Linked DNA regions of Homo sapiens: region 2 is linked to region 1. The links come from fine-mapping of genetic effects on gene expression. A gene starts in region 1. The other region holds a variant in brackets. All regions are shown on one strand. Distances are from middle to middle. Region 1 holds the start of ZGRF1 (zinc finger GRF-type containing 1). Region 2 overlaps ZGRF1 (zinc finger GRF-type containing 1).

Evidence for each region. PIP is the estimated chance that this variant, and not a neighbour inherited with it, causes the effect.
Region 2: its variant is the best candidate, but not a certain one, in a credible set for the expression of ZGRF1 in whole blood (INTERVAL, PIP 0.51).

Annotation. Positions count from the first base shown.
Region 1 is chr4:112,634,529-112,639,916 of GRCh38, forward strand. ZGRF1 (zinc finger GRF-type containing 1) reads right to left here and starts at 2,381. Exons shown (of 28, transcript NM_018392.5): 1 at 2,323-2,381. LARP7 (La ribonucleoprotein 7, transcriptional regulator) reads left to right here and starts at 2,615. Exons shown (of 13, transcript NM_016648.4): 1 at 2,615-2,711. RefSeq lists enhancers at 2,178-2,397, 2,968-3,017, 3,058-3,167.
Region 2 is chr4:112,597,905-112,603,292 of GRCh38, forward strand. All of the region lies in intron 10 of ZGRF1 (zinc finger GRF-type containing 1), which reads right to left. Among named protein-coding and RNA genes, the nearest start is that of ZGRF1, 36 kb to the right of the region's middle. The variant C/G (reference allele first, on the strand shown) is at 2,863.

The DNA.
Region 1 (5,388 bases):
TAATCCCAGCTACTTGGGAGGCTGAGGCAGGAGAATCACTTGAACCCAGGAGGCAGAGGCTGCAGTGAGCCGAGATCACGCCACTGCACTCCAGCCTGGGCGACAAGAGCAAAACTGTCTCAAAAAAAAAAAATAAAAGGGCGAGGCGGGGGCGGTGAAGTGCAAGAAAGTGACTGGCATCTTCCCTTGACTAATCAAGGTGATCTGGAGAAAGAATAGGTAAGGGGTATGCAAATGAGATATGCATACTTGCTTCGTGACACAGGTCACAGGACAGAAACCAAACCTACAGAAGGACTGCCTTTCAGAAATATAACTCCTGGCCGGGTGTGGTGACTCACGCCTGTAATCCCAGCACTCTGGGAGGCCATGGCGGGTGGATCATGAGGTCAGGCGCTCGAGACCAGCCTGACCAACATGGTGAAACCCCGTCTCTACTAAAAATACAAAAATTAGCTGGGCATGGTGGCACAGGCCTGTAGTCCCAGCTACTCAGGAGGCTGAGGCAGGAGAATTGCTTGAACCCGGGAGGCGGAGGTTGCAGTGAGCAGAGATCACGCCACTGCACTCCAGCCTGGGCGACAGAGCGAGACTCCATCTCAAAAAAAAAAAAAAAAAAGAAATACAACTTCCACATCCTATCTCCCTCCCCTCCGGCGTACATAAATTGCTGATGCCTAAGAATGCCAAGAAGATAAAAGAGAGATCGAGAAAAACACTCCTGGGCTAGATATGCTGTATACATAGATGAGAATACATGGTACAGACACAGTGCTGGGCATGTGGCAATTATTAATATCAGATCTGTTTAATAGCTACCATTTATTCAGTGCTACCATATGCTAGAAACTGTTAAATGCTTTATTTGGAGGTTTTGTTTCTGTTGGCTTTTTAACTTTTCTTTTTCTTTTACAGAGACAGGGTCTCACTCTGTCACCTAGGCTGGAGTGCAGTGTTGCAATCATAGCTCGCTGTGGCCTCAAACTCCTGGGCTCAAGCAATCCTTCCAGCCTCCCAAAGTGCTATATTATAAACATTATATACATTATATTGTTAATTATATACATTATAATTATTATGTAATTATATAATATATAACTATATTACTGTATTATGTAATATACAATTATATGATTATCGTGTGTAATTATATATATTTATTGATTACATACTATGTATCAGGCAGGAATTGGACGAGATACTTTACATACAGTATTTATCAGTCTCATAATCCTGAAGAATAAGCATTATTACAATTTACAGATTAGGAACCCAGTATTTACTAGTTTAGGATAACTTATATGCTATTTCACAATTGCAAGATAAATTCTCCATTATTTTCCTAAATTGAGATATTACTTCTGGAATGTACAGTTTAAAAAGAACTAAGAAGACTGAAACTCTTAAAGGATGGTTAAATTCGATTATAGGAGAAAACCTAAAAAAAAAAAGCTAACTGGATCTTTTAAAATTTAGAAGAGCTCTAATACTTATTCATTGAAAGTCAACACCCTTTCTTATCTTAGTATTAATCAGAAAAAATTATTTTAGACAACAGCATCATATATATTTAAGTGAGATGCAAAGAGTTTTTTCCAAGTGTTCATCTGTCCACGTCTACCAGACAATTCACCTGTTGACCGACTTCTAATAGGTGAAAGATTAATCTCCAAATAAGTTTTTAAAGACCCCAGATGCTCTGTGATAATTATATACATACATACATACACACAGATATACGTACATACACACATATACATACATATACATTGTGCTACTATATGTACGGACGCAATATATATACATAAAACTCGGTGTTCTCAGTAAAGTATGAGCCATTATTCATTTAAATACTAGATATTTTTCCTTTTTTTTTAAACAAGGAGTATTTTTTGAACCTAAACCTGAACCTCTAAATAGTTCGGATAACAAAGTTTTGGAATCATGAACTCAACATTGTTAACAAACCATCCAGTCCAAATAAACAAAGGAAACCCACATCTCATTTGCCAAGATTCTAAGAACCATAATCCTGTCACCAAATGACAATGGAGACTTGATCCTTTCTCAGTCCTAAATACAAACAGCAAAGCCCTCTTTGGTCCTCATACCTACTCGAAATTGCAAAGCAAGGCCTGGGAAAAACGGTGAAGAGGCACCACTTACTACAAGCAGTCCGAGTAGCTGTGACTGCGACCACCCCAATCCTGGTTCCAAACAGCATCCTTCCCGGTTCTCTTCTTAAGGAGCAGAGTCTTTCGTCCCTTCGCCCCAAATCGCTCAAGTCATTCCTAGGAAATCCCGAGAAACACTTCACCTCACCTGTCAAATTGCACAAAATCCACTTTCGAATTTCTCCCGCGAAACAACGTGACGTCATTAACGCGGGACCTCACCAGATGAGGACCCAAAACTTGGCCCGCCCACCTCCGCCTAAGCCAAAAACCGCCGCTTTCAAATCGCCAATCAAATTCTTCCTTGGCTTCGAGTCTCTCAGCCGGCCGCGCTCTCCGATGCCCAGCCCTCCTGGAACCACCTCGCCTGTGACGTAGGTGGAGCGCGCACTGCCTCCGGGCCCGTCTTTCTCAATTGGGACCGGAAAACGTTGTCGCTCATCCTATGACGCGAAAGTAACCGAGACTATCAGGATCCGGAGACGGAAATGTCCGAAGGCCGCAGTACTTGACCCTGTATTTTGGGAGTCGAACGGAGTAAGTTACAAGCGGCCTATAGGGTCGCACAGCTTGGGCGAAGTCTAATTAACTCTCCGTCCTTTTTCTTGCGGTCCACTCTATCATCTATCGTCCTTCTTACCCCGCCCCCCCGTCCTGCACACCCATCAGTTCCTTGGCCTAGTTATCTATGCGCACGCGCAAAAGTCTTCGGCAGCACTTGTAGTTCCCGTTTTCAGACAGTAAGGGCGCATAGGGGCCCGGCGTGGGGAGGTTTGGGGCGCGCCCGGCCTATGACGGCGTCCTTGCGGAAGTACGGGTGCCGAGAGAAGCAGTAGTCAATAAAGAGAGTGCCGTATTTCGCAGATTGGAGCTGAGCTGTGGCTGCCAGAAGATAGCGAACGTGAGGATTTATATTCTAAAATTATCATCTTCTTTTGCAGGACTCTGCCATCGTCCTCAAAGAGTAAAAAATCCAGTTACGGAAGGGAACTAACACTTGCTAGATATGGTGTGCAGAGTGCGTTTGCAAAGAAACTTAAGAGAAAACAAATGATAGGACACAGGGTGGTGGAAGATCTCAAAGAGTAAGATGCCATTTAACCTGGGCCTTGAAAATTTAATAAGGAAATTTAGACGAGAAGATTCAGACAAAGCAGAACACACAGGCCACTACGTGTTGAGGGACTTGAGTTGTAAGCAGTGACCAGAACAATGATTCTTAACCTGTTGTGGCACACTTCTTTTGAAAACTTAATTATATGGATTAGCTTCTCAGGAAAACGTGCATGTACCTATTAAAACATTTTGCGAGGCTGGGCACGGTGGCTCACGCCTGTAATCCCAGCACTTTGGGAGGCCGACGCGGGAGGATCACTTGAGGTCAGGAGTTCGAGACCAGCCTGGCCAATATGGCAAAATCTCGTCTCTACTAAAAACACAAAAATTAGCGGGGAGTGGTGGTGCACACCTGTAGTCCCAGCTACTCAAGAGGCTTGGTTGGGAGAATCGCTTGAACTCGGGAAGCAGAGATTACAGTGAGCCGGGATCGCGCCACTGCACTGCAGCCTGGGCCACTGAGAGAGGCTGCGTCTCCAAACAAACATTTTTCATATAATTTCCTCAGGAGAAATTACGAAATACTTTTAAATAGCAAACACACACAAATGACTTGGTGTCTTGTCTGACTCACTCTTCCAAGTTATCTATGTCTTTCGTGGTCTTTGAACTATTTTTCAACCCTGTAACTCGCTACAGCAACATGGAAATTAGGTTTGTCCAGTAAAGATGCAATTAATTATTGTCCTGAGCAGTATTTATTAATATTCATTTCAACGTTCCTGATTGCCTGTGTACCTGCTTTTTAAATTCTCCTTTGAACTGGTTTTTAGCACTTAACTGGTTCCCTTATTTACAGTCAAGCACCACATACCGACAGACCGCATGTATGACAGTGGTCCCATAAGATTATAGGTGAGTAATAGGCAATAGTACCTAGGTTTGTGTGAATACATCATAGAATAACTACATACTCAATGATGTACTTACTCACCTGACTGTGCATTTCTCAGAATGTGTCCTTGTCGTTAAGCAACCCATGACTGTGCTTAAATCTTTACCGTGTATTCATTTTATATTTGTACAAGAGTCTTGATTTTACCTTATCTTTAAAATGTATCATTTACAATTTAATGGAGCCCACTAGAATTCTTGTCCAGCCAAAGTTGCATGGACTTCAGATTAAGAATTCCTGAGTCAGAACATAGAGTCCGTGGTGATAAATTGCGGGAAATTCTACCAAAAGGTAGACAATGTGGGATCAAACATACCTGGGACAACTTACTTAGCTAGCTTTGGCCAAGTCACTTAAACCTTTTTGAGTTTTTGTGTTAAGATGGAAGAAACTGCTACCTAGTGGGATTGTGAGGATTTACAAAAGTGTATATAAAGTTACTGGTATTGTTACCCAATAACTTTTATTCTTCATTTAAAGCCAGTTAAATGTTACTTTTTTTTTTTTTTTTTTTGAGACGGAGTCTTGCCCTGCCGCCCAGGTTGGAGTGCAGTGGCACGATCTCGGCTCGCTGCAAGCTCCGCCTCCCGGATTCACACCTTTCTCCTGCCTCAGCCTCCCAAGTAGCTGAGACTACAGGCGCCTGCCACCATGCCCGGCTAATTTTTTTCTTTTCTTTTTTCTTTTTTTGTATTTTTAGTAGAGACGTGGTCTCACCTTGTTAGCCAGGATGGTCTCCATCTCCTGACCTCGTGATCCGCCCGCCTTGGCCTCCCAAAGTGCTGGGATTACAAGCGTGAGCCACCGCGCCTGGCCAAGTGTTACTTTTTTTTTTTAAAACAGTGTTTTCATAAACTGCATATTATGTTACGGGAAGGTGCTAAGGAATTTCTAATGTTGCAAGTTTTGACAGAAGCATCACAAAACCAGGTCTGTGTTTTAGATGGGTTATACATAGGCTCCTGTTGAGAATGGGTGACTTACAGAACAGTTTATAAACTATTGGCATATTCTAGTGACAGTTGTAGCAGTAGTTGTAGAAAACACTGGATGGAGATGAGAGCCATTTCAAAAGTCAAACTGATAGGATTTAACAAGAGATTGGATAGAATAATTGGATAGAATTATTGATAATTGGATAATTATCAATAATTTATAATTATAGATTATCAATTATAGAATTATAATTATCAATTATAGAAT
Region 2 (5,388 bases), 37 kb before region 1:
ACTGAAAAAAAAAAAAAAAAGAATAAAGCAGATCATATCCAAATTCTACACTAAGTCAAACTATCAATCAAGTATGAAAGCAAAAAAAACCATTTTCAACATGCAAAGTCTCCCAAATTTTATCTCCCCTTGCTCCCTTTCTTTGGAGGTATTCAAAGATGTACTCCAGCATAACAAGAAAGGAGACATGGTGTTCAAGATGTAAGCAACTCATGCTAGGAAGGCAGCAATGGGCATTCTTAAGTTGTCAATTATACAGTGCATACTGAAGCAGGCAGATGAAAAACCTGGAAAAGATGCCATAGGAAAATAATGGAACTGACACAGATTATATGAAAAGTATGTGTGAATTCCTGTATTAAGGAGTATTTTATACAGCTTTTTGAGGGTATGGAAAAACTTTGCCCCAGTATTCAAAAAACACTAAGCAAATTTTAAAAAGAGACAATTATAAACCGGAAAAACCCAAAGTTATAAAGGGAAGAAAATGTAATCATAGTATACCAATTGGCTCAGCAGTGAAAATATTAAAACATTTATAATAACGAAAACATTGAATATATATTTATCTTAAAGTTATAATATAACTTAATATTATAGGTGCCTGGAAGAATATAAAGGAGGGATTCAGAAACAACTAATTTTACTGTAGCCACTGTAATCATTAGCTCTTGCTAAAGACAGTGCAAAATCACAATAGTTATTAAAAGCATCAAGGTGCTTTTATTAATTAATAATAAAATAATGTTTTTATTAATTAAAAACATTAAGTGAAAAAGAGTTCTGAGCTCCAGAAATCACAAAAAACACTGACAAATCTTATTACATAAATTAAAACATTTAATTTTAGAAAAATCATAATCAGGCCAGTCACGGTGTCAGATGCCTAGAATCCCAACACTTTGGGGGGTCAAGGCAGGTGTATCGGTTGAGCCCAGGAGTTCAAGACCAGCCTGGGCAACATGGTAAAACCCTATCTCTATAAAAAATTTAAAAATTAGCGAGGTTTGGTGGTGTGTACCTGTAGTCCCAGCTACTCAGGAGGCTAAGGTGGGGGAATCACTTGAGCCTGGGAGACAGAGGTTGCAGTGAGCCAATATCATGCCACTGCACTCCAGCTTGGGCAACAGAGTGAGGCTCCTTCTCAAAAACAAAAAAATCAGAGTCAAAGCACTAATGTAGTGGAAAAAAATGACAAAGGGTTAATTTTCTTAGTATGTAAAGAGCGAAGAGCTCCTACAAATCAAATATACAAATAATATATAGAGAACCTCTATACCAAAACTGTAAAACATTACTGGAAGATATTGCAGCAGATTGAAATAGAGGGAAATATTTTTATAATATTGAAAATTTATCAATAACATATTATAAAAATGTTAATTCTGCCCAAAATTGACATGCACAATGGAATTTCATCCAAATTCCCAGCTTGTATGTGTGAAAACCATTAAGCTAGTTCTAAACATATATGCAAATGTAAAAAAATGAGAAGAATGAGGTGGGAAGATTTAAAGATACATAGGAAGTACATAGGCCAGCCACTGTGGCTCACGCCTACAGTCCCAGCACTTTGGAAGACCAAGGTGAGAGGACTGCTTGAGTCAGGAGTTTGAGACCAGCCTGGCAATATAGCAAGACCCTGTGTCTAAAAAAAAAAAAAAAAAATTAGCCAGGCATGGTGGTGTGTGCCTACAGTCTCAGCTACTTGGGAGGCTGTGGAGGGAGGATCACTTGAGCCCAGGAGTTTGAAGCTGCAATGAGCCTGTATAATGCCACTGCACTTCAGCCTGGGTGACACAGTGAGATTCTGTTTAAAAAAAAAGGAAGAAAGAAAGAAAACACATGCTTTGTGACTTCTGAAATTGCAGACCAATAAATCAGAAGAGAAACTAATAAGAGACCCTTAATATATGGACCCTTGATTCATGGCAAAGGAATGAAGAAAAGATAGCTTTTTCAATAAATGGTGCTGGGTCAACTGAATATTCATATGGAGAAAACATGTAACTTTACATAAAATGTACTCAATACATAAAAATCAATTACAGGTAAACTGTAGATCAAAATGTGAAATGTAAATTAATAAAGCTTGTACAAGATAATATGAGAGAATATCTTCATGATCTTGAGGTAATGTTTTTTTTTCTTTGATACAGGATCTCACTCTGTCACCCAGTGTGGTGGCATGATCATGGCTCAAGGCAGCCTCAATCTCCCAGGCTCAAGCAATCCTCCTACCTCAGCCTGCTGGGTAGCTGGGACTAGAGGCACGCAACATGACACCTACCTAATTTTTAAATTTTTTTTGTAGGGACCGAGTCTCACTATGTTGCCCAGGCTGGTCTTGAATTCCTTGCCTTAAGTGATCCTCCTGCTTCAGGCTCCTGAAGTGCTGGGATTACAGGTGTGAGTGACCTTGTCATCCAGAGAAAGATTTCTTAAGATACAAAAGCGCTAATCGTAAAGGAAACAGCAAATAAATTACATTAAAAATGATAAACTAGGGCCAGGTGTGGTGGATCACTCCTGTAATCCCAGTACTTTGGGAGGCCGAAGCAAGCGGATCACGAGGTCAGGAGTTCGAGTCCTGCCTGGCCAACATGGTGAAACCCCGTCTCTACTAGAAATACAAAAATTAGCTGGCGTGGTGGTGGGCACCTGTAATCCCAGCTACTTGGGAGGCTGACGCAGGAGAATCACTTGAACCCAGGAGGCGGAGTGTTGGGAACAAGCTGAGTGTTGGGAGGGAAACTGAGGTAGGGCTTGCATGACTGACATAATGTCCTCTGGAATGTGTGTAGACTTGCTGGCTCCTTGCTTCTAGCCCTCCTAGGCTCCTATTCCCATTATCTCAAGTAG[C/G]AGAACACGTTCCTTATAAATGCTAAACTGTCACAGCTGTAGATCATGTGCCTGCCCTTTTGACCTCCACATTCTCACCACCTGTTTCTCTGTTGGATTACCAATAAACAGTGTGGGCTCCCAGAGATCGGGGCCTTCGCAGCCTCCATGATCGCGATGGCCACCTGGTCCCAGTTTTACTTCTCATACTGTCTTTTTCTCAATCCTTTGACTCTGCCAGACTTCATCACCCCTACAACCTGGTGTTGGGTCTGATCACCCCAACAGCAGAGGTTGCAGTGAGGCAAAATCACGCCACTGCACTCCAGCCTGGGCAACAGAGCAAGACTCCATCTCAAAAAAAAAAAAAAAATGATAAACTAGGCCAGGCGTGGTGGTTCACACCTATAATCCCAACACTTTGGGGGGCTGAGGCAGGAAGATCGTTTGAGCCCAGGAGTTCAAAACCAGCAGCAACCTGGTGAAACAACATCTCAAAAAAATTTTAAAAATTAGCTGGGCAGCCGGGAGTAGTGGCTCATGCCTGTAATCCCAGCACTTTGGGAGGCCGAGGCAGGCAGATCACTTGAGGCTAGGAGTTTGAGAACAACCTGGCCAACATAGCAAATTGTTAAGCTAGTTCTAAATGTATATGCAACCATACTAAAAATACAAGAAATTAGCCAGGCATGGTGGCGCATGTCTGTAATCCCAGCTACTCGGGAGGCTGAGGCAGGAGAATTGCTAGAACCCAGGAGGCAGAGGTTTCAGTGAGCTGAGATCACGCCACTGCACTCCAGACTGGGTGACAGAGCAAGACCTTGTCTAAAAAAAAAAAAAAAATTAGCTGGGCATAGTGGTGGGCACATGTAGTCCCAGCTACTCGAGAGTCTGAGGCAGGAGGATTGCTTGAGTCCAAGAAGTTGAGGCTGCAGTGAGCCATGTTCATGCACTGCACTCCAGCCTGGGTGACAGAGTTAAGACTCTGTCTCAAAAAACAACAAAAAAAGAAAAATTTTTGATTCATCAAAGATACCATTAAGAGTGAAAAGGTAAGTAAGGGTCAGGAAAGATATTTGCAAAGCATACAACTGACAATGAGTAGGTATCCAAATTATATAAAGAATTCCAGAAAATTTTTTAAAAGATAAGCACGTCAATTAAAAAATGAGGAAGAGGCCAGGCATGGTGGCTCACGCCTGTAATCCCAGCACTTTGGGAGGACGAGGCCGGCAGATCACCTGAGGTCAGGAGTTCGAGACCAGCCTGACCAACATGGAGAAACCCCATCTCTACTAAAAATACAAATTAGCTGGGCTCAGTGGCACATGCCTGTAATCCCAGCTACTTGGGAGGCTGAGGCAGGAGAATCGCTTGAACCCAGGAGGCAGAGGTTGCAGTGAGCCAAGATCACGCCATTGCACTCCAGTCTGGGCAACAAGAGCAAAACTCTGTCTCAAAAAAAAAAAGGAAGAAAGCTGAACAGGCACTACATCAAAGAGGATAAAGAGATGGCCAATAGGCATACAAAAAAGGTCCCAACCTCACTATCAGGCAGGAAAATGCAAATTAAAACTACAACTGAAGTACCAATATATACCCACCAGAATAGCTAAAACTGAAAACCAAAAACAGCATCAAGTGTTGGTAAAGATGTAGAGTGATGGGCACTCTCATACACTCCTAATGGAAATGTAAATTATAAAAACCACTTTGGAAATCAGTTTTGCATTATGTACTAAAAGTAAATATATCCTATCCAGTGACTCAATGATGCTACTCCTAGGTAATATAACCAACATAAGTATGTCACGCATGTGTGTATATGTACATGTTCATGATGGTACTTGAATGTTCACAGCAGCAGTATCTGTAATAGTCCCTTAACACAAATAACACAAACATCTGAAGAATGGATAAATTGGGATATATTTATGCAACAGAATACTACACCAGCAATTAAAATGAATAAATTATAGCCACAGGCAACAACATAAATGAATTTCAGAATTGCAATATTAAACAAAAGAGGGCAGACACAAAGAATACACTGTGTATGATTCTATTTATATAAAGTTTTAAAAGCAAAACTAATAGATGGTTATAAGTCAAGACAGTGGATATCTTAGGGAAAAGTGAAAAGGGTAGTGATTGAAAAGGGGCAGAAGGAGAGCTTCTGAGATGCTGAGAATGCTCTATTTGTTAAAGGTGGAGGTTATATGAGTATGCTTTGTGATGATTTACTTATTTCATATATGTATTATGCTTTTTTTTCTTTATTTCTTCTCATATGTATTATGCTTTGACAAAAAGGGAAATTTAAAAAAAAATCTCTTTGATGAACACTGTTTCAAATACATGCTTATCATTCTAACCTCATGACCTCTATTTTCATCCCCAGAAATCTGCCTTTGGTAGCAACTAGAGGTACTCAGTGTCATATTTAAAGAGAGAAGGGAAATATCAGAAGAAAAAAAATCTATTAGATGTTAAACAGGTGAGTATTTTCTTTGTGTAATGTACCTGTTTGCTTTTGTCATGAATTTA